4 linked regions of the Homo sapiens genome follow. The protein of the gene in region 4 interacts with the protein of the main gene of each other region in a biochemical or structural test. Each region holds a gene or a part of one and is shown on either strand. Other genes may lie near its edges. The genes, in order: PCF11, EGLN1, SUV39H2 and MAGEA11.

Region 1 (7,039 bases), on a different chromosome or scaffold from region 4:
ACTTTTGGTTGTAAAGGTGTTATCAGAAGCAAGAGCATTTCCACACACTTGTATGGGCAATTGGTTTTATTATATATGATGGCATTGTGTACTCCAGAACTGTGAGCCTACCCTAGCTTCAGGCAGCTATGGGTAAGTGTTACTTAGGGTTAAGATTCCTATACACGTGGGGTGGGTAAATGGGGATAACCTAAGTTTTTTTTTTTTTTTTTTTTTTGTCTTTTTTTTTTATTTTAAATCATGGGTGCTCCTTTGGAGTCAGAGTTAAAACTATTATGGTGTGTCTTAATGCTCCTCAACAAGTCTGTGAACCTGCTGATGCTTTCTGGAAGCTTGCTGTGCCTTCTAAAAGCCAGTGGTGGGTAGGCATTGCAGTTGAACTGGGGCAACATTTCTTTACTTTGGAAAGGGCCACCTGTATCAGCATCACCACACTGGCTCTGCACAAATTTATAACCCCTGGTTTGTGCATGTCAGAGGAAAATATCTCGGCGGAGAGTCCAGGCTGTGAAGAAAATCTTCAGGACAAATCCTGGTTTCCAGAGTCAAGTTCAACCTGATTTACATGATTCAGCGGCTGCTCCATCCAGTTTTTCTTGTCTGAGTAACAAACTTGCAACTTCCTGCATGTTCGTGTGCAAGTTTCAGTGTTTTGCCATTGACTTCCTAGGTGAAGTGTTTTTAATTTTTGTTCATTTGGATTATAGAGAAGTAATCCTAATGATTTTACAGGTAACAAAAGCTTCATAGACTTGAACATATAAAATATGCCCATGGAAATTAGTTTCTACAAGAGGTCTAAAAACTGCTTTGAGTGTAGGCACACCGTTGTAAGTTAATATGGGTCACAAAACTGACACTTGGATTATATAAAGTAATTTTCCCTCGCCTCCTCCTTATTTTTGTCACTTAAAACACAGGTCTTTTTACCACATGAACTTGAAATTTCATTGAGTGTTAAATGAGTATATTAGGGATTACAGCTGTTGTTCATCCTGGTAATTCTGAGCTTTTTTGTGCTCAACTAAGGATTGTGAGAGTTGAGAGCTTGATTGAACACTTAAGTTTCATAAAGATTACTTCAAAAATATTTAGTATCAACAAAAATAGAGGTCTGTATTGTAGGTTTAAAAACTCATTTTTAAATAATTATTTGGTGGTAATTCATTATACTAAACTTCTCAGTTTCTTTTTATTCAGGCTCCTTCCTCAGAGAAGCTTCCTGTTATGTACCTTATGGATTCTATTGTGAAAAACGTTGGAAGAGAGTATCTCACTGCCTTTACTAAAAATCTAGTTGCAACATTTATTTGTGTGTTTGAAAAGGTACATATGCATTTAGAAACATTTGCGTTTTTTTTTAAAAAATGTGTTCCTGATTAAATAAATATTTGCTTTGTGTTGGGTTTTCTTGGGTGGTGAAATGTTTTATACTTTTGGACATTTATCGTTAGTACCATTTCAAAGAAAGAGGCTGAAGTTAATGTTTTATGTTAGATTTTTAGAACAGATTCTAGGGGTTTACATTATCCATTTAAGAATAGATGGATTTGCTTTTAGAATTGTGCTTTTTAAAAAAATTGAGTGTGTTCATTTGAACATCTGTTTCATCACTTACAAACCAGGCAAAAAGATCTGAAATCGTCAAGAGTAATTAAAATTTCATTGTTTACATTTCTGGTGTTAGGATGTTGACTGTTCTCTTGGGGGGGTAAAAAGCATAATCCCTCAGTGTCTCAACCTGTGATTGGTTCCTGAAACTTGTGTGTTTTTTTGTTTTGTTTTCTGGAAATGTTTACTTTTGTTACATTGTTCAAGGTATGTTTTAGGTGAATGTTGTTGGTATGTGTGAATGGTGGACCAGTTAATTGCTGTTGGTTATTCTGGAAATACTTTTGCCCCTACCTTAGTGTTCAGAAATTAGGCTTATTTTTCATATCTAGAGATTGTAAATTTCTTCCATAACACTGTAACATGGTGGTTTGGTTAAAGCAGTATTATGTTGAGGAGGACAAGGGATTTGCTGAGGTAATTCTCTGCCTGTCAGGCTATATCTTTCACATTGAACAAAAAGGCACTTATGAGATACTTAGGTTTAAAGATTGTTTCCTAACGTCAATATTTGGTGGTAGTTATTATATTTTAGTAGATGAACACCTGTGTGTCAGTTGTCAGATTTGTAGAATTGGAATTTTTTTTGGAAGAACTATTCAGTATTAGATTTTACATGTTTATTAGAAAATAAGTAGTTGCTATTTGAGAAATGTTTTTAAGTTCTTAGAGAAAAACAGTATATGCAGAAGAAATCTGGAAAGCTCTATATCATATAGCATTAAAATGCTTGTTAATAGAATATTGTAGACATTTGCTGAATACTGCTAACCAGAGGCTGTAGTCTTAAGGAGAAGCTTAACCAACCTCTTGGTTTCGGTTTCAGTATGTTCAAATTCACTTGGGTGTTTGGTAGCATACCTTTACTGAATCTAACTGGGCATTAACATGACAGTTGATTAAAATGACCTTGTAATAAATACATTATTATCTGAAGACTTATGAATATAGTTAAGGCTTTACTGTCTATCCTAATGTTGAAAATCTAACTCAGTTTTCCCAAGTCCTAGGTTTCTTGATGGCGAATTTTCTTTCTTTTTCTTTTTTTTGTTTTGAGATGGAGTTTTGCTCTTGTTGCCCAAGCTGGAGTGCAATGGCACAATCTCGGCTCACTGCAACCTCCGCCTCCCGGATTCAAGTGATTCTCCTGCCTCAGCCTCCCGAGTAGCTGGGATTACAGGCATGAGCCATCATGCCTGGCTAATTTTGTATTTTTAGTAAAGACGGGGTTTCACCATTGTTGGTCAGGCTGGTCTTGAACTCCCTCAGGTGATCCACCTGCCTCGGCCTCTCAAAGTGTTGGAATTACAGGCGTGAGCCACCGTGCCTGGCAATGGCAAATTTTCTAAACATTTTTACGCCATCACAAACCTGAACAGAAAAGTTATTTAAAACTAAGGCTTATCAGTGGTTAAGATTTTGTGAATTTCAGTTGTTAAAGTGCTTTCCACACCACAATATCTTGTTCCTATGTACCCAACCATATAGTATTGCTGAGCATTAGTTAGTGAGATAGTTTTGCTTTAATTTTAACTTTGTACTACTATGTAAATAATTTAAAACATTTAAGCCATCAGGTAATCAATTTTTCTAGTTGTTTTATATTTTTTAGTTTTATATTTTCTAGTTGTCTTACATTTTTTTTTCCCAGAGAAAGAGTAACTTTAGGAATATTATACTAAGCTCTAAGATGTGGAAACGTTTTGTATATAGAAAGGCTCACCTGGTTGGTTGCTTGCATGAAGGCTAGGTGAAAATGGTTTTAATTACTCTGTTTTTGAAGGAGAAATGCACCTTTAATAAATTATTACTGTTGTATATACTTACCAATGGGTAGTACAGTTCTGTATGTGAAGTAGAGCAGATTTATATAACTTATATTTAATATATAAAATATTCTATAGTAACTTAACAAGCCATAGAATTGTTCTGTTGTTCTAGGTGGATGAAAATACTAGGAAAAGTTTATTTAAGTTACGTTCTACATGGGATGAAATATTCCCTTTGAAGAAACTTTATGCCCTGGATGTCAGAGTCAATTCATTAGATCCTGCTTGGCCTATTAAACCTCTACCCCCCAATGTGAATACGTCTAGCATCCATGTGAATCCTAAATTTTTAAATAAATCGGTAAGTTTTAATATGAATAGTAAGTAACATACTTTTAAGTATCACATTTTGAATTCTTCTGCAGAACTTACTGCCAGAAAGTCAAAATAGAATACTCGGTAGTGAATTGGTTCAATTTGAAAAAAAAAAAAATAGTGTGTATATGTTTGGAATTTTTATTTAGAAATATATTCACCTTGTTTAGGTATTATGTAACATTTATTTTGGGTTTTAAATTTCTGATAAGTTTTCTGTGTGATAGGAATTTGGATCATATTAAGAGTTAAGCTGATAATTTTTACTCCCTAGCTTCCGTTTTAGCTGATACGTTTTTCTTAAACAAATTGTCTTTTCTTATAGCCCGAGGAGCCTTCAACACCTGGTACAGTGGTCAGTTCCCCTAGCATCTCCACTCCTCCAATTGTTCCTGATATACAAAAGAATCTTACACAAGAACAACTAATAAGGCAGCAGTTACTGGCAAAGCAAAAACAGTTGTTAGAACTTCAGCAGAAAAAGCTGGAGCTTGAGCTAGAGCAAGCTAAGGCACAGTTGGTAAGTAAGGGAGATTGTCATTTTAAATATTTTAAACCTGTCTAACAATAGGGAAGTAATGTTTATGTTTGAATTTTATTAACATGTTACTTTTATTAATAGTGTACTCTTTTTTCACTTTTATTTTACAAATGAGTATATTTATTAGACTATACTTTTATATCTTTATTGTAAAATTCACTTGATTAAAAACTGCATAGGCCAGGCGCAGTGGATCATGCCTGTAATCCCAACACTTGGGAAGTCTGAGGTGGGAGGATCGCTTGAGTTTAGGAGTTTGAGGCCAGCCTGGGCAACATAGTGAGGCCCTACCAAAAAAAAAAAAATTAGCCAGGTGGGGTAGTGCATCCTTGTGATCCCAGCTACTCGAGAGGCTGAGTTGGAAGGATCACTTGCGGCTGCAGTGTGCTATGATTGCTTCACTGCACTCTAGCTTGAGTGACAGATCAAGACCCTGTCTCAAGAAAACCCTCCAAAAACTACAAAACTACACTATTTCCTCCAAACAGTTTTCTGTTAGATTGCTATCTTATAAAATAGCATCTTAATTTTGTTTAATCATTACATTATGTGGACTTAATATTTCAGTCCCAAGATGGTAGGCATGTTGTGGCAAATATTTTTGCATAGTCTTTAATGTTTTATGAGCTTATGCTCCATGAACAGAAATGACAAAATTAAGGAGGCCAGGAAGATTATATCTTTCTACACATAAATGACTTTATACTAAGTTATTTTGCTTAGCATCTGAGCTTATTCGACAGTGAGGTGCAGGAAGGCAGAATTTTATAAGTTCATTAATAGCACCACTTTGGGAGAAACTAAATTTTAGGACTTAGAATTTAGCTGAAATGACTCTGATTCTTGTGCAGCCGGAGTGTAGTGATTTAGCAATTTCTTAGGAGCAGTATGGCTCAGAATCCTGAACAATAAGGAAGAGAAACAATTTTTTTTCATTCTATTTAGAGATTATATTATAAAGTCTCAAAAAATACTAGTAAGAAATAATGGGCAACTTAAATCATGGACTTTTTCTTTTCATTGTAATCTCAATTTATACATTATAAGTGTACAATTTAAATGTAGTGTTGAGTAAATATATTTATTGAATAAAGCATTATCTTCTTCAGTTGTTTGCAATTTCTTGACAATCTGCATGTTCTGCAGTGTTAACATGAACATTTATTTTGTGTTTTAGGCAGTTTCTCTTAGTGTTCAGCAGGAAACATCCAATTTAGGTCCTGGATCTGCACCATCCAAATTACATGTTTCACAGATTCCCCCTATGGCAGTTAAAGCTCCTCATCAGGTTCCTGTGCAATCTGAGAAAAGCCGTCCAGGACCATCCTTACAAATTCAGGATTTAAAAGGAACTAACCGGGATCCTCGTCTGAACAGGATAAGCCAACATTCTCATGGAAAAGATCAGAGTCACAGGAAAGAATTTCTAATGAACACATTAAACCAGTCTGATACTAAGACAAGTAAAACTATACCCTCTGAAAAACTAAATTCATCCAAGCAAGAAAAAAGTAAATCAGGTGAAAAAATAACCAAGAAAGAACTTGACCAATTAGATTCTAAATCGAAATCGAAATCGAAATCACCCTCACCTTTGAAAAACAAATTATCTCACACAAAAGACTTGAAAAATCAAGAATCGGAAAGTATGAGGTTGTCTGATATGAACAAGAGAGATCCAAGATTAAAAAAACATCTTCAGGATAAGACCGATGGCAAAGATGATGATGTGAAAGAGAAGAGAAAAACTGCAGAAAAAAAGGATAAAGATGAGCACATGAAGTCATCCGAACACAGACTGGCTGGAAGTAGAAATAAAATCATAAATGGCATTGTACAAAAACAGGATACAATAACAGAAGAGTCAGAAAAACAGGGGACAAAACCAGGGAGATCGAGTACTAGAAAGCGATCAAGATCTCGATCACCCAAGTCTAGGTCACCAATTATACATTCCCCAAAGAGAAGAGATAGGCGGTCACCCAAACGAAGGCAAAGAAGTATGTCTCCAACATCGACACCTAAAGCTGGAAAGATTCGCCAATCTGGAGCTAAGCAGTCACATATGGAAGAGTTTACACCACCTTCTAGGGAAGACAGAAATGCTAAGAGAAGTACTAAACAGGATATTCGGGATCCAAGGCGAATGAAAAAGACTGAAGAGGAGCGACCACAAGAAACTACAAATCAGCATTCTACAAAGTCAGGCACTGAACCAAAGGAGAATGTAGAAAACTGGCAAAGTTCCAAGTCTGCCAAAAGATGGAAATCTGGTTGGGAAGAAAATAAAAGGTATGATGTTAACATTTTAAGTCAAGTGTAGTAGTGTATATGTTTCAAAAGATAGTGTTAATTTAAAAATTGGAAAATGTTTATTAGGTGCTATTAGTACTTTTTTTCCATCTAATTCTTACATCTCTGTGGGTTAAATACTATTATTATTTCTATTTTACAGATAAGGAAACTGAAGTTTAGAAAGGTTAACTAATCTACCTAAGGCTGCAGTCCAGGACATGCAAGAATCAGAATTCATATCTGTTTTTGCTGATTTCATATTTTGTGCTCTTAATCATTTATTTAATTACTTTTTGTGGTTACATATGCCCATTTTAACCATATCCTTTGAAAAGAATCTTTAAATATGGTCCTGAGTATTTTTTAAAAAAACATTTCAATGTAACATACTGCTTTTATGGTTTCAGCTTACAACAGGTTGATGAACATAGTAAACCTCCTCATCTGA
Region 2 (7,039 bases), on a different chromosome or scaffold from region 4:
CACTGTGGAAAATTTTTCTTTAAATAACAGATATATAAACAGGTATTTTGATCTCACCTTAATAAGAGCTCTCATATTTTAGTTATGACCACACAAATTAAACCTTCTTGCATATACACAATGGTACATCTATGACAATTAGAGATAAATGCCTAACCCCACTTCCTTTTGCAGCAGAGGGGTGATACAGATCTGTCAACAGCTATGAATGTTAAAATAATTTTAAAAATCCTACTAAAAGGGCAAGAATTCAAGTGCTGAGAATCCAAACAGACTTCATGGATCCCACAGACAGTCCAATGACCCCAGGGATGTTTCTAAAATTGTTGAACTCCTATGTTTACTGTTCTCTTTCCTTCATTATCATTTACAAAAAGTTATAACAAATGTCCTAGACTAAGCCAGAAAAGCTTTATCTGATGAAAGGGATCATTCGGAAAGCCAATGTATGATAAAGGATTGAAAAACAAAAAAGACAGCTGGAAATAACCACCATAATGTTTCAACAACATTTATACATCTTTTTAATTAGATTAGCTTTACAAGCAACTTGAGAGCTCTTTCATAATGAAACACTGCTTTTCAAATTACATGACTTTATAGTCTATCTGTATATGAATCCTGAAAATCTTTGCCTACTCTTGATAAAGGTCTGTGTTTTACAGCTGGTTAATGTGTTGAATAAAAACAGCATTATGAAGCTTTATCTTTAACCAGGATTAAACACATATAGGCCACAAACAGTTTTAAATTTTGTTTGAAATAGAGTCCTGCTTGGTGACAAGTTAATAGTCCCACTAACATGAAATGAATGGATATTAAATAAATGGCCATCCTGATTTCTTGATCTTTTCACAATGATTCCTAAGAGAGTATATAAACTTTTCCAAAAAATATACAATTTAAGACCTGTCTGGCAAGCACAACCCACAGATAGTAGAATCTAATACTTTTTACAACTGTAGAGGTACACATTTGAATGACAACAGGGGCTCCCAAATTAAAAGGCTGTGGCTGTACATTTTGACAATCAAACAAACCTCCCATCAACATAAAACAATTTCTACTAACCCTAAAAAAGATAATGCTTTTGAGTTGTGGCCTAACGCCGCGCACTGTACTATAGACCAGATGGCAAAGACAACTTGCGCTCCTGGGTTGGGCTGGCAGAGGCACTTACTGTAGAGATGTGATGTTATCATCTGGAAGGAAGGGGAGGAAGTAGAACAAAACTGAATATGGGCGAGGAAAAAACAATAAACTATCACTTTCTCCTGCAAATTCTCCTAAGTGAGATCACTATACTGAACATTCAATCCCATCCTAAGTCCACTGTTGGCTTCACTACACAATTTTTTTCCATGTTTTACATGAATAGCAATGGCAATCTTTTAATAAAAATTACTGAGCTTCCCATAGAAAAGGTCTCAAATTGAATACAAACTATACAGATGCTAAAAATGTCTTAAGTTGAAATATACAGAAAATTTCTGTATACTCACATTTTGGCAAAGAAGATCAAGGACAGAGATAGAAAACCTAAGTGGGCAAGGTCTTACACCCATAATTCACGCAAAATATGGATACCACCCTTTAGGTTTTGCTAAAAAGCCTAGGAAAGTGAAGTCTAAGACATCCGTCCCAATTCATTCTTTAAATAACATGTATGTGAGGCCTTGTGTGATTTTCTAATATTCCTTCCTTGTTTAAAAAGTAAATAAGAAAACCCATGAAACAAAATAAAATTATCTGATTTTGCATCTGTTTTGTTTTTTTCTAAGCTAAGCATCTTTCAGTACAGGTAAGAAGGCTGGCATCACATCTGGGAAATGCCTTAACAGATATCTGAGGAGTTACTGCACATTCCGTCAGTAACACCACACTTCAGTTTCAATGTGTACATAATCTCCCCTTGATGCTCTTCAACAGAGACAAGGTTCTTGTCTGCAGATCAGATAGATCACAGTATTAGGAAAAAAACATAACAGCAAATTTGGAAGTACAATCAATTTAAGGAGAAGCAAAAGGAAAAGACTTAGAAATGGGACATTATTGTCTACATCTAGAGGATACATACACCTGAAAGCTTAAGAAAGCCCTTATCTTAGGAACTTGAAGCTGAGGATAATCTCAAGTTCACTTAGTGCCAGTCACTTTAGTTTTTTAAAAAATTTAACTTAAACCCCAGCCTAGGCAACATGGCAAAACCCCGTCTCTACTAAACATACAAAAATTAGTCAGGCATGGTGGTGTGTGCCTGCAGTCCCAGCTAGTTGGGAGGCTGAGGTGGGAGGATTGCTTGAACCTGGGAGGCGGAGGTTGCAGTGAGCCAAGAATGCACCACTCCCCTCCAGCCTGGGTAACAGAGCAAGACTGTCTCAAAAAAACAAAACAAAACAAAAAAATTTAAACTCTTCTTGTGTCTTTTTCCTTGTAAAACATTAACTAAAAGTTATTGGTAGTAAATGGTGACTGTTTTACAATTAGGTTTCGTTATTGACAATGTCAAAAAAAAAGCAGCAATCTTTAACAGTTCAAATTAGTGTAAGGAAGGACTACAAAACAATCTGATTTTTCAGTTGTAATTAAAGTGCTCCTTTTCTTATTTTAAGTAAAATAAAATTAATCATCAGTCACTGGCAACAATCATTATTAAGAGGTCTTTTAGGGCAAAATTTAATAGTATGAACAGGTTTACAAAAATAGATTGATGTTATTTTGAGGAATAATACTGTAATTTTTTCTCAATTCAGTTTAGATAAATTGTACCTAATATAGAAAAATTATCCCAAATTCAAACTTGATATAAAAAAGGGAGAGATGAAATGAACTCAGCTAGATAACAGATCTGGCAAAATATAAGAATGAAAAAAATTCTACACAGGGCACTTATTTCATATCCAGATGTAAAAACCATTTTCAATTAGTAGCTTATCTTCCTCCTGTAAGCAATCACAGATTTGAAGTTGATCATGCAGTACAAAGTCACAGCAGTCAAAATCTTCTGTTTGATGCAACACAAAAAGTTGTTTCTGTTTCCTTATTAAAATGCGAACTGGTTGTCTATTTTTCTTTATCCCATTTATTCGTATTCACAAGTTAACAAATAGTTAACAATATTGTAGGTGAAGTGGGGTATTGCTGGATCAAAGGCTCTAGAAGACGTCTTTACCGACCGAATCTGAAGGTTTATTGAGTTCAACCCTCACACCTTTTTCACCTGCAAGGTAAAAAAAAAAAAAATTTTCATTCATTCACTAAGCACCAGAGAGCTTCTGCTACTGCATTCCACTGAATTCCTAAGAGTATGGACAATATTTCAACTTTGCAAACATCATCTGAGAACTATCACGCTTGTACTTCCAAAAACTTCCCTCAGCATTCTATTGTGATGAGGTTTCAAATAGTAAACCTTCAAGGATAAAACCATCCTCTACACAGAGATAATGATTTTGTCTTTTTATTTTAAAAGCCATTTGAGTTTCTTCAACAGAGTGTTCAGTGTCTCTGAAAGCACACTGAGCTTGTGCCACAAATAATGGCTTTAAAAATACATAGAAAATGCATGAATATTCCATTTTTATGTAAGGTCGACGTGCGATTAGCAATGGCTCTGGAAAACACAGCTAATCAGTAATGTGAATACTCAGTGGATTTTTGGAGATAGAAAGTAGAGTTAAAGAAAAGAAGGTAAGTGGTCCATCAGATGGGAAACAGACCCCCTGCTCTTGGAGAGGCAGTCCATAAGTGGAAGAGAAGGGGAACTGGCATAATTAAAGGATCTTCAGGTTCAGTACAAGAGTGCTGACCTATGTACACCATTAGCAGATATGGAATCTACATGTCTGTGTCATTTACTGATTTTGGCATTTGAATTCATAATTCTTTGTATTAATTTTCTTCATGTCTACATTTAACATGGAAGACCTAGAGTACTGTTTAGAGCACATCCATTTGAAAAGGAAAGGGTATTAATTTAAGGAGTGAATGAGAGGAAACCATATGGCCGTTACCTAGAGTTAAGTGGCCTTTGACTGAAAAGGATAATCACAGAAAACTCAGTTTGTATGTGAATAATTTACTCAGACTTCTTTGCCTCAAATTTTCCACATCCTTTGACAATTTTTTTGGTTAAAGATAACAGTGAAGATGACTTATGTCTTCTTAAAAAATGAGGCAAATAAGAAATCTGATAAAAAACAAAAAGTAAGTATTCATGGTGTTAACAAAGACTATGCTTGAGTTTCCTGAAAGCATCACCTGATTGCAGGGTATTTCTGTACCAATATATCCTGGCCCCAAATGACGTTTACCTGTTAGATATTTTACTTTAGCTCGTGCTCTCTCATCTGCATCAAAATACCAAACAGTTATTGCGTACCTAAAAGAAAATTTAGAATAGGATAAGAATGATCACACTGCGGGGAAAAAGTGGTATTTTGCTGCAATGGTATATTAAAACTTGTAATGCCAAAATTATGCCTAAACTGGAATGATATCAAAGGATAAATTTAACAGCTTATTTATACAGTAACCAGGGGAGACTAAAATTGATGTCTGAAGTTGATGAGTTTTTGTGACTTTCTTAATACTTATTTCAACTACTTATTTTTTGCAAGGGAACTGCAGATCAGAAAGAGACAATAGGCCGGGCACAGTGGCTCACGCCTGTAATCCCAGCACTTCGGGAGGCCGAAGTGGGTGGATCATGAAGTCAGGACTTCGAGACCAACCTGGCCAATAGGGTGAAACCCCATCTCTACTAAAAAAAAGAAAAAAAAAATTAGCCGTGCATGGTGGCACATGCCTGTAGCCCTAGCTACTCAGGAGGCTGAGAGGCAGGAGAATCGCTTGAACCCGGGGAGGCGGAGGTTGCAGTGAGCCGAGATCATGCCACTGCACTCCAGCCTAGGTGACAGAGTGAGCCTCCCTCTAAAAAAAAAGAGAGACAATAAAAGGGTAAAAGAATGGCTGTTACAGAAAAAGCACATTATCAATAGCACAAGTACTAAAAGAACAGAAAAGAAACAGATAAAAGGACTCAGGGCATTGCAGGCTAACAGTTTCAACAGTCTCTGGGGACATCACTACATTATAGCAAAGAGTAATGATGGATGTTTACAATTATAACCTTGACAGTTAAATTATGCTAAGAATTTTTAAGGATTTTAATCAAAGCAATTATACTGTGTTTTGTGTTTAAACTTTGTCTAAACTTCATTTTTCTGAAAATCTGACTTAGAATATTTCATTCCACCAATAAGTGAGGCATCTCTAGTTTATTAAATACTACAAAAGACATACTTTCTGATACAAATAATGGGGAAAATGTATAAACGCTATAGGAAGTGAAAGTACGCTACAAATCACCAGTTCCTGGGCAGAATATAGCAATTAGTTCAAATATATTGTGGATTGTGGCCAGTGGACACAGGGGAAAAGGCAACATTTATCAGACATACAGCCAGTAATATGACAGAATGAAAAATCACATAATGTATTTTGAAGTAAAGAGTCTGGGAGTTTGGACAACTGGGAGCCTGACGTTTACAGACCCCACCACTGGTGAATCACAGAGCTGAGGTCTAAGGAGGTCTCCTGACTTCCAGACCAGACTCTGCTCTTTCCAGAGTTCCACTACCTTTCTTACCATGTGGCTTCTTCTACTTTTGGGTGGCCTTGGAAATAGGAAAGGGCTCAGATACATAATTTTATGTATCTTTTGCCCATGCCCTAAACTTTTAGTCACTTAGCAATCAGAATTCTAATATCTGGATCAACAACTTACCTTATGTCATTCTAACTTTCCAGCCTTATCACCCATTCTAGATAAGATCAGAATAGGATTCTACTTCAAGAATCCTTTTCGTCGCATGATTTTCCATGCCTTAACTTGAACAACTACGCCTTTTCCCCCAGAACTTTACTAACACGACTGCACCCCTTGCCTCTCCTCACCTAGGCCAGCTGAGCCTCTCCCTTCAAAGCGCACTTGCCCGTCTCTCCAATGTAGCACCACCTTCGTTCCTCAACTCCTGTAGCACTTAGCCTCCATGCCATCTGGCATTTATTTACTATAAACTCCCAAGTATCTGTTATTTATTCATCTAAAAAGGACGTAACCAAACCAAACTCAGGATTTCATAAAAAGGAAGGTCTATGAGGCAGTTACTGTGTCAGAAAATCTTTACAGAAGCAGCAGGGGGCAGAGACAGCACTGGGATGCCACTGGGAAGAGACATGGGATTGAAAAGGGCACATCATGTGATGTGACAGTCTTTCTTTGGTTTCCATTCAGGATTTCTTACAATCTCCAGCTACAACCTGCTTAGCTTGCTACTCAGTACGTGAATTAGGATGCAGGCAACACACCTCAGAAGGCAGGAAGAAAAAAGGCACAGCTGATAATCAAGTCGTTAGAGTCAACCATCATTACTAAAGCCAACTCTCCACCCAGCGCATCTAAGCCTGTGCCTCTTCTTGCCACCCTAGCATCTCCTAAGCCAGATACAGCAAATGAATGCCGGAAGCTCACTATCAGAATGTTCCAAGACCTTTCCATAATAAAAAATAAGTATTTTTTTTTAATGTGCTATTTTTCTACAAATATTTACTTTCATGATAATGTCTACAATATCTTGTTTTCACAGCCAGAGCATTTTAATTGAGTCAGGATAAATGGTTTTTAAAAAAGCATTTGAAATAAAGCACTAAATATAATAGGTTGCAAATACCTTGTAGAAAAAGTATAATGAAACAGATGCTCATTATTTGTAAAGCTAATAGGATCATTTTTCTAACATTAACTCCCACACATGGTAACCTGTTCTCTACTTTTCTTTCTTCTGTTTTTCTCTTCACTTCTACTCTCTGGTTACCTCTGATTTTTCTACTCTGTATCCATTTTCCTATGTTGTCCCTCACCACCTTTTAAAAAACCCTTTTCCTTCTTGATCTTTCTCTCTCCCAAGTAAAATACTCTTACAAAAATCAAAGCATGGATAGTAGTTAAGAGATGCACAAAGCACGGAGAGAGTGC
Region 3 (7,482 bases), on a different chromosome or scaffold from region 4:
AGGGATATGAGCACCTGAAAATATTCTAATGCAAGAACACTTTATGCTTCAAAATCCTCTCAATGCTATTTGGCAACACAGATGATAGGACATATAAATTTATCATGCCTTAGAATTTTAAACATTAAGAAGAGCTTTTCTTTTAATGTTCTTTTTATGTTACAGAAATACGAAATACTGAAGTCTGATTAGGTCTCTTGTAAGGGGCTAGATATTTGCCTTACCTTTACTACCTTGTAGTCACACAAGTATTCCACCTCATAATTGTTTAGATTCCTTTTGGTGATTCCAATCGATTTACATGTGAGCTTTTCTTTTCTACATAATTCCTGAAGAGTATCAAGTGAAACTAGGCAAGGCACACACCAAGCTACAATAAGAAAATAGAATTCTTTACTAATGAAATAGCTATTCAATTAAAACAAAAAAGAGAAACTTAAAACCTCTATTCCCCATCTTTCAACTGGCAATTTTAGACTAAAAATTCCTATGACAAGAAACCAGTTACATGTCTTCAAGAAAAAGTTAAACATTAAGGAACTATTTTGTTAAATTGGTGTTCTTGGATTTTCTCATGGATTTCTATTCCACTACGTTTAACTGACATCAGTTAATTTCCATTAAGTCACTTGAAAATGTTTCATGTCTGTAAGCTTTTTTAAGATTATATACAGATGCAGGTCAACAGAGATAATGTTTTTCACTTTCATTGTATTCTACATAGACTACAATCACTATTTTAATAAAATGTAAATCTCTAGGACACTTATTCTTAAAAACATATCTAAAATATACTTTAAAACAATCTTATAATTTGTTAACACGTAACTTTCATTTTTTTTAACTGGACAAAACGAACTGAAATCTAATTAAAATATATTTCTACGGTTACAAACTCATTATATGTTAGTTTTCTCTTTGATATGTTGCATGAAGCTTTAATTCCACTTATTATTCTACCCATACTGCAATATATTATCACCAAGGTGAATAAACTCCAGTTATTAAAAAAATGGAGTATATCGATATTTTGTAATACTTATGGACTGTACTGTTTTTAAAGCCAAACTTTTAAAACGGTGTTCAATTTACATAAGCCATGTACTAAACTCAAAGAAAATTAGACATACTCATCATCAACCCTCCAGAAACCAGAAACTAATTGCGTTCCAGAAGATTTCACCCTCAAATTTCTGTAAGCAGCATGTTACCACACTGAATTTAAAGTGTAAATTAACACGTTTAGGAAAATGGAACAAACTTGTTGTTAGGGCTAGTGTCATGGTAAGCACTTGACAAAATCAAAAGTCCTCTGCACTACCCATCGCTCGGTCACCGAGCTATGTGACTTTAGTGAGGTCTCAATCTTTTTGGCTGTCAGATTCACTGGAAAAAAATGGAGAAAACTGGTGTTACCAAACAAAATCTATCAGTAAACTCAAGCTTTACTTGGTAGCTCTCCAAGGTAGTTGCGATCACCTTTTGCGTTTTGAGGTAATTTCAGGGAAGGGAGAACACTTGTTAGTGGCAATAACTTTTCCGGCCCCTTTCCTCATCCTCCCCACCTCACACAGAAACTTCATTGTCAGAAACCCTTAAGCATAATTTCTACCATCTCACTGGCTGCAAACGATTCCATCCTAAAGCAGTAAAGACAAAGGTATTTTCCTCCAGAAAACGTGGGGGAAGAGGCTGATTGGCTTTGTAGTGGTCGTTTGGGGGTAGGACAGTGATGGGAAAGAAATGACCCCCTAAGTCCCTTCCATCTACAAAAACTAGAGAACGTTTTGTGTTAAGCTGACCTCATTAAGGGAATCACGTATAAAGGAGGTTCCTCTTATCTACTCAAGGTGTGTTTGTGTGCTTTTCCTAAACATTTTTATCTAGTTGAGGATTCAAAACACAACCCGCAAAGGAAATGCTCTTTGAAAATTAAAAAAAAAAAAAAAGTGAACATGAAAAACTGCAAACACGTGGTTAAAAAAAGAAAGACAATCTCTCGACAGTCTCCAGTAATGCAGAAAAAGATTTCACTGACAAAATTAAATAGTTCATGACCACCACAAACACCTTCCGCTGGTTCACAGTAACCCCTGACATTCTCCAAGGAGAAAAATTCAGGGATAATGAGGTCATAATCCCAGCGGAGAGGAGACGAGCTTGAAAACACCTTTACATTCCGGAACGCACGGAAAAGTTCCAGGCTCTCAAAGCGTGCGCGACACCAACACCCCCCGACGCCCACACCCACGCGCGCTCGGTGCCCAGTTCCCCGGTGCCCAATTCCCCAGCGTCCACAGAAATAACACCAAGCTCCCGGTGGGTGAAAGAGTTACCGTAAGCCAGAGGCTGCAACCTCAAATACCCACTTTCTGGGCGATTCTCCAACGAGGCACTCAACCTCCTAGCGTGTCCGCCTTGGGGGGGATTCCTCGCTTATCCCCTTTCTTAGCACACAGGCGCCCCGATTTACTCTCCCCCTCTGATATTAAGGTCATGTTCACGCCGGCGGGCGTCGCTTCCCGCCTCCCACTTCAAAGGCCCGGGCGCATGCCGCACGCCGCGCTCGAACCACCACAAAGGAGCCAGTCGCAGCCGTGCCCCCCGGACCTCCAACCGGGGACTGCCGGGGAGCGGCCTCGAAGCCCGAGGCCGCCACGGGAGACGCGGAGGGGGCCGGGCCGAGCGGGCGGAGAGGCCACGCTCCACTTCCGAAGTGCCCCAGGCTCGGACAGTGCCCACCTCCGCGGCGGGAGCCGGCCGGGCAGGGAGGCGGGTCAGCGGCCTGGGGGAGGATAGGCGTCCGCAGCGTGCGTCCCGGAGTTGGGGTCGCGGCGGGCGGGGAACCGCCACGTCGCCATCTGGCTGGCCCGCGGGACGGCCCCGCCGCCCGGGCCTTGGGAGCTTGCCTGGGAACAGGGAAGGCGAGGGGGCCGCGCTCCAGCCTCACCTCCTCGCGCCTCGGCCCCGACCGCCGCCATCTTGTAGAGCTTTCATTCAAACTGGCGCGGTCTGACGGGATAGCTCAGCTGGCCCGACGCCCCGCCCCTGGCCGGCCCGCGCGGGACTTGGGGGCCGGGGCTTGTTGGGGGACGGAACCCGCACGGCGTCCTGACGTCACTGGCGGCCGACCCCCCGCCGCGGCGGCCAGCGCGCCTGCGCCCCAAAGCTAGGCCCGGCCCCAAGCGCGAGGAGCGGGGCGGGGCGAGCGCGCGTGCTCCCGGATCCTCGGCAGTGTCCGGCGCCCCCTTCCCTTCGCCAGGCCCGTTTGGCGCCTTCACTCGGGAAGACGTCGGCCAGGACTTTGCGCTTTGGAGACGTCTTACTTCGGCAGCACTCGCACACTGCGAGATCCGACACGGGCAGCGGGGACCTAGGGAGCCGGGGACGCTGCCTGTCGGGTACGGTTCCGCAGCTACCGCAGCCCCGTGGGCCATGGTTAGTCTCCCCCCGACACCGCTCCCTCTAGAGCTCCGGGCTTCGGAAGCGGCTGCACGTGGGCATGGCTGGAGAGGTTCCGCTGGCTTGGGGCAGTCGCCGGGATTCCGACTGGTTGGTGTGGGGTGTGGCCTGTGCTATCCAGCTCCCAGCTGATCCTAATGTGCGGCACAGCGGAAACCACCGGTCCACATCAGTGCTTCTCACTTAAAGGGGCTTACGAATCGTCGGGGGTGGGGGAGCTGGACTTGGAATTTTTTAAGAGATGAGGTCTCACTCTGTCACCCAGGCTGGAGTGCAGTGGCGCGATTACGGCTCACTGCAGACTAGACCTCCTGGGCTCAACTTTAATGTAAATTGGGATTGGGTAGGTCTGTAAGGGGACCCGAGCTCCCCTCCCATGTTGTTGCCAAGCTCCTGAGCTCGGCCTGGTGGCGGGTGGGGGCCGGGAGGAGAAGGACACGTTAGTAAGGAAGCTGCAGGACGACTCCAGGGGCCTCCCACCTGGTCTCCACCCCCCTCCCCCACCCATTCTTGACGCTGCATCCATGATTGTTCTAAACAACCTAAAGCAGAAATCTTAGAGCAAATAACGAAAACTGGCAGAAGGCCATTTGATATCTCCTTAAAAAATTCATGTAAAAAATTACATAAACGTTTCAAAGCAGTATGTATAAATTTGAAATACTGGAAATGAACGCAGACCATTAAAGGAATAGTTAATTATTTGATTCCATTATGAAATACTGTCTAGCCGTCTTAAAAAGGTGTTCATGAAGCTTTTAGTATTCAGCAAAACCAAAACAAATCCCCCTGAAATATAGTTTTAACTATGGAAGAAAAAAATGTATAGGAAAATAACGAAATAGCCTTTTCGGAGTGATTTTCTTTTTAACTTCTCGTTTTTAAATATTTAATCATTTTCTACGATGGGAAACACCACTTCCTCACACACACTCATGCTCCCAGACTTTATTTAGCTACAAACGGCATCATAATACAAATACTGTTCTGCAGTCCGTGTGTGTTTCAATGCAACTGCATTTCTCAGACATGTTTCTAAGATTTGAGTCCTTAGTAAATTTTGTATTCCATATCTCATTACCTTGAGATAAGGAATAAAAGGCCCTGTCCAACCCTGTCACCTGGAAGAGCATCCAGGCCCTTTAAGGCTTAGTCTATCTAGGATTATGCCTTCAGACTTGGATACAGCCTCCCGTCCTAACCGGCCCCTGTATTCATTACCTCTCCTGTATGTTTTCAGAGCCCACCAAGGAGCGGCCATCGCTACTCACTGGCCACTCTTGAATCCTTTTTGGCTCCTTTTCCTCAGTCCAACCTGGGTTCCTCAGAGAAGAGACTGTAGTCCTGGGACTGCATTTCTTTTCCGCCCTCTCCCTATGTGACTGCCCCAATTCCCATGGATTTAAATAGCATCTTGACACACAAGATGCCTCACTTATCGTCTCCGGCCCTGGCCTCTGCCTGAATTCCAGGCTAGAATATCCACAGTGCGTAATGGACATATGCCCTTAGGTGTTGCACAAACATCTCAAATTGAACATATCCGGAAAAATACACTTCTGAACTTCGTAGCATTCAGAATAAAACTCAAACCTCCAGATGGCCGGCAGGGCCTCCAGTGATGGGAATCCTGTCTCACCTCACTTGGTGCCACTCTCCCCTTTACTCATTTTCCTGGCCTTTCCCCGGCCCCACTTACCCAGAAATCTTTTACTGTGCATCTCCTATGTGCCAGGCACCTGATAGGTGCTGGGAATATAGCAGTGGATGAGAAAGAAAAAAGACCCAGTCCTCATGGAGCTGACTTCCTAGTGACAGGAGCAGCGGATAAAGCAAATCACTGAAGGCAGCTGGAAATTACTTTCCGGTTAAGAGGACAGGCTCCTTCCCCTCCTCACATGGCTACCTTCAGATCACTTGGGTCTCAGCTTAAACACCACCTATTGACAGAGGCCTCGCATGTTACCTCATTCTTTAGCCCTACTTTGCATCCTTAAAAAGCACTCATCAAAATTTGCAATTATCTTGTCGGGTTTTTGTTCTTTGGTCTTGATTCATAATGAATGCATCGCACTATTTTGTAAATCCAGTGTTTCGTTTCGTGTCTTGAATCCCATCCATTCCAGCGCATAGATGAGGCCCTGTCTGTTCAACATTCATCACCGTGTTTACTATCTAGAGCAGCAATTCTCAAAGTATGGTAATTGGGACCCGAAGACTCTTCACAGGGTTCATGAGCGCAAAACTATTTTCAGACCAACATGTTCTCTGCCTTCCTTCGCTCATGAGTACATAGTGGAATTTTCTAGAGGTTACACAATTTGAATATTGCAACACATTGAACGAAGACGCAGGTACCAGAACATAGCTATCTCCTATTAAGCCAGACATTAAAGAGATTTGAAAAAATACAAAATACTGCTTTTGGCTAGGCAAAGTGGCTCGCACGTATAATCTTGGCACTTTGGGAGGCTGAGGAATTGCTAGAGACCAGCCAGGGCAACCCTACTAAAAAATTAGCTGGGCGTGGTGGCACATGCCTGGGGTCCCAGCTACTCAGGAAGCTGAGGTGGGAGGATCGCTTGAGCCCAGGAGTTTGAGGGTGTAGTGAGCTATGATCAAACCACTACATTGCAGCCTGGGCAACAGAGCAAGACCCTGTCTCAAGACAAAAAACAAAAAATAAAACCCCAGATACCACCCTTGCCACTAATTTTTTGTCTTAGAAAAATTATTTCTCATAAAAAATTAACTTTATTACTTAGAAATAATTTTTAAAATTGGTTTTAATTTCCATATGGTAACTATAGTTATATAACTACATTTTATGTATATGTAACAAACAAAAGCTCTATGGGTTCTCAACATGTTATTTTTTAAGACTATAAAGGGTTCCTGGGACTAAAATGTTTGAGGGTGTTGGTAAATCCTGGCTATAAATGGAGAGAGAAATAAAAAGCCACTGAGAGACACACACCAGGGTCCTCAAGGGAAAAGTAGAGAATCATGACCCTTTCCCAGTATTTTTTTCACAAAGACCACATGATTTCTGGAGTGTCTCCTCTTCTACTGAAATAAACGTTCTCTTCTGAGAGGCAAAGAATCATAGAATGAACACTAGATTAAGAATGTGAATTTAAATGAAATAATCCATGTAATGTGCTTAAAATAGTAAGCAGTCAAGAAAAATTAAGTTTACAAAATAAGCATCTGAATGTTAGTTCAAAATCCACCATTTATTCACTGTGAGACCTTGGATACTTTATTTAACTGCTGTGAATCTATTATCTGGAAAACAGAAATAACCAAGGCCATATTACTCTCTACATAGTACAACTACTCGTGGAATTGTGATGAGATCAAAATTTTAAAATGAGATAATGAATTAAAGCAAATAACAGTATTATATGGTCACTCATTATCATTTTAGATATTGTGATTTTTCCCATAGAACTTTTATGCTAGGATACTTTTAAGAATTCTTATACATATAAAAGCTTTCAGTTTGTGATGAATATTTTGTGACCTCCTGTTAAGGACTGAACGTTTTCATCTCTGAAAAATTCCAGTGTTGAAATCCTCGCCCCCAAAGTGATTATATTGGGAGGTGGGGCCTTTGGGAGGTGATTAAATCATGAAGGTGGAGGCTGCATGCATGGGATTGACACCCTTACAAGAGGGACCCTTCAGAGCTCTCTCGCCCTCTATCCTCCGTGTGAGGTTATAAGGATAGCTGGCAACCCAAAAGGGAGCCCTCATCAGAACCCGGCCCCGCTTCCAGCCTGGTCCAGCACCCGAACTGACTTCCAGCCTCCAGAACTATGATACATTTCTGATGTTTACAAGCCACCCCCCAGACTATGGTACTTTATTATAGCAGTCCAAACTAAGACACGTTCCAAGACTTTCACATCATAGGTATTTCTTCCTATTTTTATATTTGGCTCTGTTCTTCAGACAATGTCAGATGTAAATAGGCAAAACTATAATTTGACATAAGCTTTTAGTGGTAAAAGTGTT
Region 4 (2,748 bases):
CTGTCACCATCTCTTGCTGTCCTTCCTGGGTAGCCCTGTGTACATGTGGCCAGATGTGTATCCCCACATGTCCTCTTTCATATCAGGAAAGAGCTATTGATCTGAGAGTTTCTCAGGTCAGGAGAGCTGTGTCTTCCAGGCCCTGGCAGGAGAAAGGTGAGGGCCCTGAGCACAGAGGGGACCATCCACTCCAAAAAAGTGAGAAACTCACAGAGTTTGGCCCACCTTTCTGACAGTGCTGGGGTGCCAGGATGGGTGCTTGCAGTCTGCAGCCTGATGGCCCCATGATTCCTCTTCTAGAAGCTCCAAAAACTGAGCAGTGAGGCCTTGGTCTCAAGCAATGTCTTCAGATCTCAGAACACAGGAAGCCTAGGCAGTGCCAGTAGTCAAGATGAGATGTTCACCCTTAATCTACAAATGGCCCCACCTGCCCCAGTACAGAAAGGGACCCCCAGCTTGCAACCTCACCTGCCCTACCTCAGTCCTGGAGCCTCCTGCTCTGATGTCCAGCTGCATCTTGAGCAGCCTTCTCACTTCCTTTTTCAGGTTTTTAGAGAACAGGCCAACCTGGAGGACAGGAGTCCCAGGAGAACCCAGAGGATCACTGGAGGAGAACAAGTGTAAGTAGGCCTTTGTTAGATTCTCCATGGTTCATATCTCATCTGAGTCTGTTCTCACGCTCCCTCTCTCCCCAGGCTGTGGGGCCCCATCACCCAGATATTTCCCACAGTTCGGCCTGCTGACCTAACCAGAGTCATCATGCCTCTTGAGCAAAGAAGTCAGCACTGCAAGCCTGAGGAAGGCCTTCAGGCCCAAGAAGAAGACCTGGGCCTGGTGGGTGCACAGGCTCTCCAAGCTGAGGAGCAGGAGGCTGCCTTCTTCTCCTCTACTCTGAATGTGGGCACTCTAGAGGAGTTGCCTGCTGCTGAGTCACCAAGTCCTCCCCAGAGTCCTCAGGAAGAGTCCTTCTCTCCCACTGCCATGGATGCCATCTTTGGGAGCCTATCTGATGAGGGCTCTGGCAGCCAAGAAAAGGAGGGGCCAAGTACCTCGCCTGACCTGATAGACCCTGAGTCCTTTTCCCAAGATATACTACATGACAAGATAATTGATTTGGTTCATTTATTGCTCCGCAAGTATCGAGTCAAGGGGCTGATCACAAAGGCAGAAATGCTGGGGAGTGTCATCAAAAATTATGAGGACTACTTTCCTGAGATATTTAGGGAAGCCTCTGTATGCATGCAACTGCTCTTTGGCATTGATGTGAAGGAAGTGGACCCCACTAGCCACTCCTATGTCCTTGTCACCTCCCTCAACCTCTCTTATGATGGCATACAGTGTAATGAGCAGAGCATGCCCAAGTCTGGCCTCCTGATAATAGTCCTGGGTGTAATCTTCATGGAGGGGAACTGCATCCCTGAAGAGGTTATGTGGGAAGTCCTGAGCATTATGGGGGTGTATGCTGGAAGGGAGCACTTCCTCTTTGGGGAGCCCAAGAGGCTCCTTACCCAAAATTGGGTGCAGGAAAAGTACCTGGTGTACCGGCAGGTGCCCGGCACTGATCCTGCATGCTATGAGTTCCTGTGGGGTCCAAGGGCCCACGCTGAGACCAGCAAGATGAAAGTTCTTGAGTACATAGCCAATGCCAATGGGAGGGATCCCACTTCTTACCCATCCCTGTATGAAGATGCTTTGAGAGAGGAGGGAGAGGGAGTCTGAGCATGAGATGCAACCAGGGCCAGCGGGCAGGGAAATGGGCCAATGCATGCTTCAGGGCCACACCCAGCAGTTTCCCTGTCCTGTGTGAAATCAGGCCCATTCTTCCCTCTGTGTTTGATGAGAGAAGTCAGTGTTCTCAGTAGTAGAAGGCACAGTGAATGGAAGGGAACACATTGTATACTGCCTTTAGGTTTCTCTTCCATCGGGTGACTTGGAGATTTCTTTTTGTTTCCCTTTGGTAATTTTCAAATATTGTTCCTGTAATAAAAGTTTTAGTTAGCTTCAACATCTAAGTGTATGGATGATACTGACCACACATGTTGTTTTGCTTATCCATTTCAAGTGCAAGTGTTTGCCATTTTGTAAAACATTTTGGGAAATCTTCCATCTTGCTGTGATTTGCAATAGGTATTTTCTTGGAGAATGTAAGAACTTAACAATAAAGCTGAACTGGTGTTGTGAAACAGAGAAATAAAAGGAGAAGGTCATTAATTCTTGTCTTCTTATCCATATTAATCTGTTGTTCTATGAAAGTACACACCCATACACACATGTACACCCCCCTCCCCCCACATACATATTCACCAAGGAAATGCAGTTTCCTACTGAGTTGCAGATTCTCTGAGATGTCCTGGACAATAAAAAATATTCCAAAGTAGAGAGTGGTAGCACCTGGGGTCACAGTAATACTAGAAATAGCTGTCAATCATTAAATATCCAGTACATGCCAGGCATCATCCCAGGTGTTTTAATACATTTTATACATTACAACAGTCCTAAAAAAATGGTCTATCAAACCCATTTTCTGGATGAACCTGAGTCTCATGGTGCTTGGTAACTTTCCCAAGATCATATCACTGGTAAACCACAAGGTTGGCCTGAATTCATCTAGAGCCCATTCTATTCTCACTCTTTGCAGCCTGAAGTACACCTCTGTCCCTTAATTCATTTGTTTTCTCAGTACTGCATAATGTCTCTCAAGTGGCCAAAAGAAGGACACTGTGGACGTGGTACTGAAAGCGGGCCTAC

The links.
Region 1: the proteins of MAGEA11 (region 4) and PCF11 form a complex in vitro, tested with the Homo sapiens proteins (2 studies listed by BioGRID, with this or other methods).
Region 2: the proteins of MAGEA11 (region 4) and EGLN1 form a complex in vitro, tested with the Homo sapiens proteins (one study listed by BioGRID).
Region 3: the proteins of MAGEA11 (region 4) and SUV39H2 form a complex in vitro, tested with the Homo sapiens proteins (one study listed by BioGRID).

What each region holds. Positions count from the first base shown.
Region 1 is NC_000011.10:83,160,127-83,167,165, forward strand, and holds part of PCF11 (pre-mRNA cleavage complex 2 protein Pcf11), read left to right. Parts: intron 1-1,200; coding exon 1,201-1,326; intron 1,327-3,552; coding exon 3,553-3,741; intron 3,742-4,080; coding exon 4,081-4,275; intron 4,276-5,473; coding exon 5,474-6,588; intron 6,589-6,998; coding exon 6,999-7,039. UniProt on the Homo sapiens protein: Component of pre-mRNA cleavage complex II, which promotes transcription termination by RNA polymerase II.
Region 2 is NC_000001.11:231,363,256-231,370,294, forward strand, and holds the end of EGLN1 (egl nine homolog 1), read right to left. Parts: intron 6,589-7,039; exon of another isoform or gene 6,299-6,588; intron 4,382-6,298; coding exon 4,314-4,381; exon of another isoform or gene 4,312-4,313; intron 3,221-4,311; coding exon 3,156-3,220; 3' UTR 501-3,155; downstream 1-500. UniProt on the Homo sapiens protein: Cellular oxygen sensor that catalyzes, under normoxic conditions, the post-translational formation of 4-hydroxyproline in hypoxia-inducible factor (HIF) alpha proteins.
Region 3 is NC_000010.11:14,874,388-14,881,869, reverse strand, and holds the start of SUV39H2 (histone-lysine N-methyltransferase SUV39H2), read right to left. Parts: upstream 3,005-7,482; 5' UTR 2,982-3,004; coding exon 2,951-2,981; exon of another isoform or gene 2,337-2,950; intron 371-2,336; coding exon 225-370; intron 1-224. UniProt on the Homo sapiens protein: Histone methyltransferase that specifically trimethylates 'Lys-9' of histone H3 using monomethylated H3 'Lys-9' as substrate.
Region 4 is NC_000023.11:149,715,058-149,717,805, forward strand, and holds the end of MAGEA11 (melanoma-associated antigen 11), read left to right. Parts: intron 1-546; coding exon 547-620; intron 621-695; coding exon 696-1,719; 3' UTR 1,720-2,211; downstream 2,212-2,748. UniProt on the Homo sapiens protein: Acts as androgen receptor coregulator that increases androgen receptor activity by modulating the receptors interdomain interaction. May play a role in embryonal development and tumor transformation or aspects of tumor progression.